Linked DNA regions of Homo sapiens: region 2 is linked to region 1. Evidence: fine-mapped expression QTL. Tissue or cell type: whole blood. Region 1 holds a variant in brackets; the other region holds the start of a gene. All regions are shown on one strand. Distances are between the middles of the regions.

Evidence for each region. PIP is the estimated chance that this variant, and not a neighbour inherited with it, causes the effect.
Region 2: it holds the start of COL7A1, and the variant in region 1 is the best candidate, but not a certain one, in a credible set for the expression of COL7A1 in whole blood (TOPMed, PIP 0.53).

The regions. Positions count from the first base shown.
Region 1 is chr3:47,759,854-47,764,171 of GRCh38, forward strand. The region is part of intron 2 of SMARCC1 (SWI/SNF related BAF chromatin remodeling complex subunit C1); the gene reads right to left. Among named protein-coding and RNA genes, the nearest start is that of SMARCC1, 20 kb to the right of the region's middle. The variant G/A (reference allele first, on the strand shown) is at 1,846.
Region 2 is chr3:48,593,113-48,597,260 of GRCh38, forward strand. COL7A1 (collagen type VII alpha 1 chain) reads right to left here and starts at 2,217. Exons shown (of 119, transcript NM_000094.4): 1 at 2,156-2,217; 2 at 1,963-2,048; 3 at 1,256-1,436; 4 at 425-584; 5 at 244-337; 6 at 1-151. The coding sequence starts at 2,047.

The DNA of each region.
Region 1 (4,318 bases):
TTGAACTCGGGAGGCTGAGGTTGCAGTGAGCTGAGATCATGCCATTGCACTCCAGCCTGGGCAACAAAAGCGAGACTCCATCTCCAGAAAAAAAAGAAAAAGAAAAAATGTATCAGCCCGTACACAGCAATGACAATAAACAAATTACAACTATAAGCAATAACACAGAAAAATTTGAGGCCAGGTATGGTGGCTCACGCCTGAAATCCCACCACTCTGGGAGGCCGAGACGGGCAGATCACTTGAGGCCAGGAGTTTGAGACCAGCATGGCTAACATGGTGAAACCCCATCTCTACCAAAAATACAAAATATCAGCTGGGAATGGTGGTGCACACCTGTTAATCAGCTACTTTAGAGGCTGAGGCATGAGAATCGCATGAACCCAGGAGGCAGACTGCAGTGAGCCAGGATCGTACCACTGCATTCCAGCCTGGGCAACAGAGAAAGGCTGTCTCAAAAAAATTAAAAAAAAGAAATTTTTACAAATGTAACATTTGTCTGCATGCTTCAAAAATGTTAAGTCATGGGCCAGAGGGAGTGGCTCATGCCAGTAATCTCAGCACTTTGGGAGGCCAAGGCTGACAGTTACCTGAGGTCAGGAGTTGGAGACCAGCCTGGCCAACATGGTGAAACCCAGTTTCTACTAAAAATACAAACATTAGCTGGGCGTTGTGGCGCATGCCTGTAATCCCAGCTACTGGGGAGGCTGAGGCAGGAGAATCATTTGAACCTGGTAGGGGAGGAGACTGCAGTGAGCCAAGATTGTGCTACTGCACTCCAGCCTGGGCAACTGAGCAAGACTCTGTCTCAAAAAACAACAACAAAAATGTAAGTCATAACAAACAAACGTCAATCAGCTGTGCGTGGTAGCTCAAAGCAGCAATCCCAGTACTTTGGAAGGCCAAGGCAGAAGGACTTCTTCAGTCCAAGAGTTCAAAACCAGCCTGGGTAACACAGTGAGACCCTATCTCTATCAAATTAAAAATTAAAAAATTTGGCCAGGTGCTGTGGCTCACACCTGTAATCCCAGCACTTTGGGAGGCCAAGGCAGGCAGATCACTTGAGGTCAGTAGTTCGAGACCAGCCTAGCCAACATGGTGAAACCCCATCTCTACTAAAAATACAAAAATTAGCTGGGTGTAGTGGTGCACACCTGTAATCCCAGCTACTTGGGAGGCTAAGACAGGAGAATGGCTTGAACCCGGGAAGGGGAGGCTGCAGTGAGCTGAGATCGCGCTACCACACTCCAGACTGGGTAACAGAGCAAGACTCTGTCTAAAAAAAAAGAAAAGAAAAGAAAAGCCAGGCGTGGTGGAATGTGTCTGTGGTCTCAGCCACTCAGGAGGCTGAGGCAGGTGGATCAGTTGATCCCTGGAGGTCAAGGCTGCAGTGAGCTATGACCATACCACTGTACTTTAGCCTGGGTGACAGAGCAAGGCAGTATCTCAGAAAAAAAAAAGACAGGCTGAATTATCTCAAATTAAATAAGACTAAAAATATATAACTAAATAAAATATGTGGTGTTGGTGTGGATCTTATAAAGGACATTTTTGAGACAACTGGTGAAATGTGAAGATAGATTATATGGTAAATAATGGTATTATATCAAAGCCAATCTCCTAAATTTGATCACTGTATTTGCCAGGATAAATCCCATGTTCTACAGAGATCTGTGCCTCAGTCTCAAGTCTCTCAAGCTATTCCCTCCCTGCTAGATTGGACCTGATGGATGATGACAACTCAAGTGACTACGACTGCTGATTTCTTTCACGTAAGTCCATCCTTTTATTCTTGCTTCCAAGACCTATATGCTAATCTGTTTTCTCCCTCATCCATTCCACAAA[G/A]TCCTAGAATCAGCATGATTTTGGCAAAACAATACCATTCTCACATACGGATCATAAAATGTTCAGTAAGAGAGATCATAACATTTGCCAAATTCAATAGTTTTCTCCTATTTCATTTTTTTCTTTTTGAGACACAGTCTCACTCTGTTGCCCAGGCTGGAGTGCAGTGGCACAATCTTGGCTCACTGCAACCTCTGCCTCTCAGGTTCAAGCTATTCTCCTGCCTCAGCCTCCTGAATAGCTGGGATTTTTTTTGTATTTTTAGTAGAGACAGGATCTCACAAGGTTGACCAGCCTGGTCCAGAACTCCTGATTTCAGGTAATCCGCCCGCCTCAGCCTCCCAAAGTGCTGGGATTACAGGCGTGAGCTACCATGCCCAGCTTGCTTTCTCCTATTCCTTTGCCACAGAACATTTTTAGAAACTCAGAGAGAGGACTATTAAGAAAAATTGTTCAAAGTGAAACTTGAAGACAACAGATTCTTCTTAGCCCTCTGCATTTACTCCTCCCCTCCCTCTTCTCAGATGCTACAGGTACTCCCCAGGAAATAATTATAAAACCAGTGATCAAGTCCAACTCCAACTGTAAGCCCCTTCTTATTAACTTCACGTTCCAAACGGTTTATTCAATCAAATGAAAACAGACTGTTAAAGTGACAGTCCTCCAACTCCCACCCTTTCCATTACACCAGACTGATCCAGTTGGTGAGAATTCCTGCCATGAGGTCAGTCATACTTACTGGGAAGAAATTCAAAGGTGTCAGAAAGAGATAGCTTATGAACTGTGACTCATCTAAAACATCCCAAAATAGTATTATCCAGTTCAATCACACCACCACATTTGTTAGAACTGGCTATGACAACATTTTATGCTCAACGTATTTACAGGTGTTCCACCAAATCACGTAACAATTGAAAATAAATTTAGAAAATGTTGAATGAGGCTAGGCACAGTGGCTCACACCTGTAATCCCAGCACTTTGGGAGGCCGAGATGGGAGAATCACCTGAGGTCAGGAGTTTGAGATCAGCCTGGCCAACATGGTGAAACCCTGTCGCTACTAAAAATATAAGAATTAGCCAGGTGTGGCTGGGTGCAGTAGCTCACGCCTGTAATCCCAGCACTTTGGGAGGCCGAGGCGGGCAGATCACGAGGTCAGGAGATCGAGACCATCCTGGCTAACACGGTGAAACCCTGTCTCTACTAAAAATACAAAAAATTAGCCAGGTGTGGTGGCAGGCACCTGTAGTCCCAGCTACTCGGGAGGCTGAGGCAGGAGAATTGCTTGAACCCAGGAGGCGGAGGTTGCAGTGAGCCGAGATCACGCCACTACACTCTAGCCTGGGCGACAGAGCGAGACTCCATCTCAAAAAAAAAAAAAAGAGAAAACGTTGAATGATAGTTCCCTTAAAATAGGTGTATCCATCTCCTCAATGCATCTCCTTCTTCAACAGTAATAATCTTTCTTTTCCTCTTTTTTATTTTTCAATCTTTTTTAGAGACAGGGTCTCACTTTGTTGCCCAGGCTAGTCTCGAGTTCCTGGGCTCAAGTGATCCTCCTGCCTCAGCCTCCCAAAACGTTAGGATTACAGGCATGAGCCACCACACCCAGCCCTTTTGGGTCAACACTTTCAGAGGACAAGGCAGGAGGATAGCTTGAGCCCAGGAGTTTGGGACCAGCCTGGGCAACAATAGCGAGACTCCAGCTCTAAAAAAAAAAAAAATTATAAAAACATAATAATTTTTTCAGTGAGTTCTGACAACTGCTTTAAAATACGTCAGTATTACACTTTACATTTTTGTAGATATATTAAGAAAAGCTCAATTTCACAAGATTGTTGCTCAGGCTAGTCTCAAACTCTTGAGCTCAGAGGACCCACTCACCTAGGCCTCCCAAAGTGTTGGGATTATAGATAGGCATGAGCCACAGTGCCCAGCTGAGATTTTTTTTTTAAGAAAAAAAATATATATATACAGTATTCTGTTTTATGTTTACACTATATTTTCACAACACAAAATACTTCAGTTAGGTTTTTTTTCTCAAACAGGGACTCACTGTCGCCTAGGCTGGAGTGCAGTGGCATGATTATAGCCCACTGCAGCCTCAACCTCCTGGGCTCAAGAGATCCTCCTACCTCAGCCTCCCAAAGTAGCTGGGACCACAGGCATGCACCACCACACCAAGCTAATTTTTTTTTATTTTTTGTAGACGGCTCTCACCATGTTGTCCAGGCTGGTCTCAAACTCCTGGGCTCAAGGACTCCTCTAGCCTCAGCCACCCAAAATGCTAAGATTATAAGCATGAACCACTGCACCCAGCCTTTCTCTTTAGGAAAAAAAAAAGAGAAAGAGATATTGATGGGATTTCGCTCTATCACTCAGGCTAGAGTGCAGCAGTAGTACTACTGTAACTCATGGCAGCCTCTAACTCCTGGGATCAAGTGATCCTCCTGGGTCAGCTCCCAAGTAGTTGG
Region 2 (4,148 bases), 830 kb after region 1:
ACAGGCACGCCACCAGCAGTCGTGCACACTCTCCGGGAAACGAGGGGCAGTAGTGTCCTCAAGATGCTGAAGTCATTGACGAAGAAGAAGAAGTCACTGGTGGGCTGTGAGGCAACTCGCTTCAGCTCCTCAGGGTCAGCATTCTTGATCCCTGAAGTGACGACCCATCAGGACTCAGTCACCCACATGCTCTCTGACTGCCCCCACCCCCCAGCTGACCTGTCACTCCTGCTCGGTCCTTACCCACAGCAAATAGCTTGACCCCCTGCCCCTTCAGCCTTTGGGCAGCTGTGTCCACCAGGTCCTGGGACTTCCCGTCTGTGATCAGGATGCAGACCTGGGACAGGTGCAGGGGTCAAATCACGGTTCCCCTGGACACTTCATTTGGGGTCATCTTGGGAGGCATGGTAGGGGTAGGGATCACCTTGGGGACACCAGGTCGGGCCAGCTGGGGCAGGAAGACATGGTCAGCCACATGGAGAATTGCAGCCCCTGTGCGAGTGTTGCCCCCCTTGTAGCTAAGCTCACGGATGGCGCGGATCACATCACCCCCAGAGCCAAGTGCATCCAGGCCGAACTCTGTCCTGTTGGAGGGTAGGGGTGGCAACAGGCTAGGACTCAGGATCTCTTCTGGCCCTGGCCTTGAGGAGGCCTCTAGGGTGAGGGTTACGGGTATCAGGCTCTCTTGAGGGGTCCCTTCGTTCTGTCATTCTCCACACCCACTTGCCTCTGGAACCCCCAGGTTAACAAACTCCCCAGGGGCTCCTTTGTGCACCATCTGCAGGTGGGCCTGGGCAGACCTGAAGGAGCCCTTAGGGGCTCACAGTCTGTGGGGAACAAGATGCTGCTTAATTAAATAATTGCAGGAGGAGGGGTCCAGATGTAGGAAAGTGGATGCTGGCCAGATGGAGCACCTCTGGTGAACGGCTGCAAGGGTTAGAGGGCTAGAACGTGGAGAATCCAACAGGCGTGGGGGCCCCCTCCTGGGCTCCCCATCTCCAGATCAGAAAACACAGCCTCACTGTCTTGCACCTTCCTGTCTTGCAGTAGCCTGGAGGTGCCTCAGGGCACGAAGGTTCTACCTAGGGAATCCTTACCTCTGTCTCCAAAGGAGGTCCTGGCTAGGGGGTCTCTAGGTTCCCCAAAACTTGTTTCTGCAAAGACCTGGCCTGGGGTTTCCAGGGTCTCCTCCCTCTCTGGGGAAGGAGTCTTGGTGGGGATCTCGTGGTCCCCAGCCCCCAGGGCCCCTACTCACCGTGGGTCATCGCTGTACTGCACTGTGGCAAAGCGCACACCCTGTGCACTGGCTGCTCCAGAGAAAGGCAGCACCAGCCCTTCGAGAAAGCTGCGGACCTCGCGGAAATTGCTGCGGCCAATGGATGAGGAGCCATCCAGTAAGAACACAATGTCAGCGGCGTAAAGGCGCGTGCAGGTCACTGGGGCGGGCAGGAGAGATCAGGGCCTCTTCTGGGAGGCCAACCACCCGCCTACCCGCACGGTGGCCTCACTGGGACTTGGGATGGTGGGGAGAGTAGGCCTCATCTTATGCAAACCAGGGCCGAATCGGCCTGAGCCTGAGGGCCTTGGAGGGAGTTGAGCTCGGTGGGTCCCAGAGCAGACTCCCGCGGAGGGTTGGGGGTGTGCGGGGGAGGGAGAGTCGCCAGCACGGGTGTGGACTTGGGACTGAGGTCAGCCTCTAGGGGCCGGCGTGGATTGGCATAAGGCAGGGGACCCCGCACGCATCCAGGGAGCCAGAATTTGGGTAGGAACAGGATAGGAGGCGGTTTAGGGAACCCAGCACCGATCGCGGAGGGTTCGGGGAGTCCCAGAATTAGGAGGAATCCGCGGGGCGTCGTGGAGTTGGCTGGGTTGTGGGCGGGGGGTGTTGGGGATGAAGGCCGAGTGGAGCGGAGGGTGGCACGGTGCAGTGCCCCGGGCCGGGTCCTCCCTTGCGGTGCCCACCTCTCTCCCTGTGCTGGGCTCGCACTCGGGGCGCCTCTGCCAGGATCCCGGCGCAGAGCGCGGCCACCAGAAGCCGCAGCGTCATCCTAGGCAGTAAAAGCCGTCAGCTAGGACCCCCGCCTCTGTCCCTTGCTCCCCCGTGGCCTTGGCAGGTCCGAGCCCAGCGCCCCTCCAGCCCGAGTCCTGGTCTTGCCTGCGCGTCCGCCCGCTCCCGCCGCCGCCGCTGCAGTCTCTCGGGCAGAGCAGAGAAAAGTCCCTGATCTCGGGGGGCGGAGCGGCAGGCGGGAACCCAGGCACCCGCCCTCACCCATATCCCTGAGAGGTCGCCGCCCCCCCCACCCCTCCCCCAGACAAACGATATGACGCACTTAACTATAAACCCCCCGACCCCCCGTGGCTTCTGGGAATTTCCCAGAAGGTTCTGCATGGGCAGATGCTGAGGGAGTACCCCTAACTCCATCTAAGGTCACAGGTCTTGGCTGCTTTAGGTCAATCACAGTGACCAGGCTGAGGAGTGGACAGGTTCCTGCAGAGCCACAAGGCAGCAGCGCCGTGGGGGGTGGGGCTGCAGTTGGGGATGACTCACCCCCAATCCAGTGGGGGTGCCCAGACAAGCCCTCAGGCCATGGGTCCCGCCGGCCACTCCTGTGATTCAGCCATCTGTCTGGTGGGCCTCCTGGGCCCCACCCGGATCTCCTTGACAGGCAAGAAGCCCTGGCAAATGAGTGACTCTGGGCCGGTCTTAGGGAAACCAAGGTCCCCTTGGCCTGGATCCAAGTAACTCACCCCCTCTTTGTAGGGGATAAGCCGGAAGGAGGAGAGAACCTGTGTCATGCTTATGCATACATCCCAGTGTCCCACATCCCCTACCATGTCACAGGCAGATGCAATCCAGCTGTGCCTGCAGGGAGGGGGCCGCCCATCTGTGGAGGGCGGGACCACCCACAGTGACAGCTCATCTCTCAGGAATCGAGCCCTCCATGCCCCAGGCCAGGTCCCCCTACCTACATGTCCTCACCCACAGGCATCCTCTCCTTCCATCTACTTTTCTTGTAGGTCCCTGCCACCCATCTCCCCTACCAGGCCGAGGTCCCCTTGGGCCCCTTCCTCCTTTCCTCACTGCCCTCATGGTACCTGTAGCTTCCAGCTTCATAACTGCCCCCTACCTTACTCCTGTCCCCTTACCCAGGCTGACTTCACACCCTCCCCCAGCTTCGCTTCTGAGGCTGTGGACAGTCCTCCAACACACACCACGCCAGGGCCACTGTCCGAAGGAGGTGGGGCTCTGTATATGCATATCTCTCCATTAGATGGGTGACACTAAGGCAGAGAGGCACTGCTAAGAAGGGCAGGCCCCCATCTGGGTCCTGCTCCCCCTTTTTTTCCTGCTAATCCTGAATAACTCTGGGCAGCCCAGAAAGCACATCTATACTCACCAAGGCTGCTGGGCCCCTTCTAATATGCCCGGCCCCACAGCCTCCCCTGGGATCCACAGGGAGATATGGGGACAGCACTGGCTGGACTCCTCCACAGCCCGAGGACTCTGGTGTGGCCAGAGCTGGAGGCAGTGAAGACCATCCATGCTGCCTGCTTTCCTATTGCCCAAGGAAGGCTGGGGCTCTATCCCTTATTACTGACCCCCCAAACTATCCTGGGGCATAGTGCTATGACCTTATTCCAAGGTCAGGGTCTCCTCAGCCATGTCCCAGGACCCCCCATCCCTGCAAGGTGTGCTCCAGGTGGGGGGCTGCAGAGAACCAGGTATGTTATCACACAGGCAGCCCCTTCCCCCTAAGACTGTCACCTCCTCCCGTGCAGCCAGGGCGGGCAAGAGCAGGCCAGTGGCATGGACAGTACGGTACAGACATATGTGCACACGTGGGCCAGTCTTAGGGGAGACAGGAGGCCCAGCTGGGAGGGTGGGTGCTCAGGCAAACCTCATCAGAATTGAGGTGCCTCCAAAAGAAAGGACAGGCTGCTGTGAGAGGGTCTCTCAAAGGGTGCTGGGAGAGGCTGTTGAGAAGGTAGGAGTAAGGTTGGAATGACTCCACGTCTGGAGCTTCTATGAGACTCACGAGCAGGAGTGTGGCCCTCTGAAGCCCCAGCTCTGGCCTCCTGGGAGGAACACAGCCTAGGGCACAGCCCGAGGCCAGTGCCTACCTGCAACCCCATCAGGGCGGTGGAGC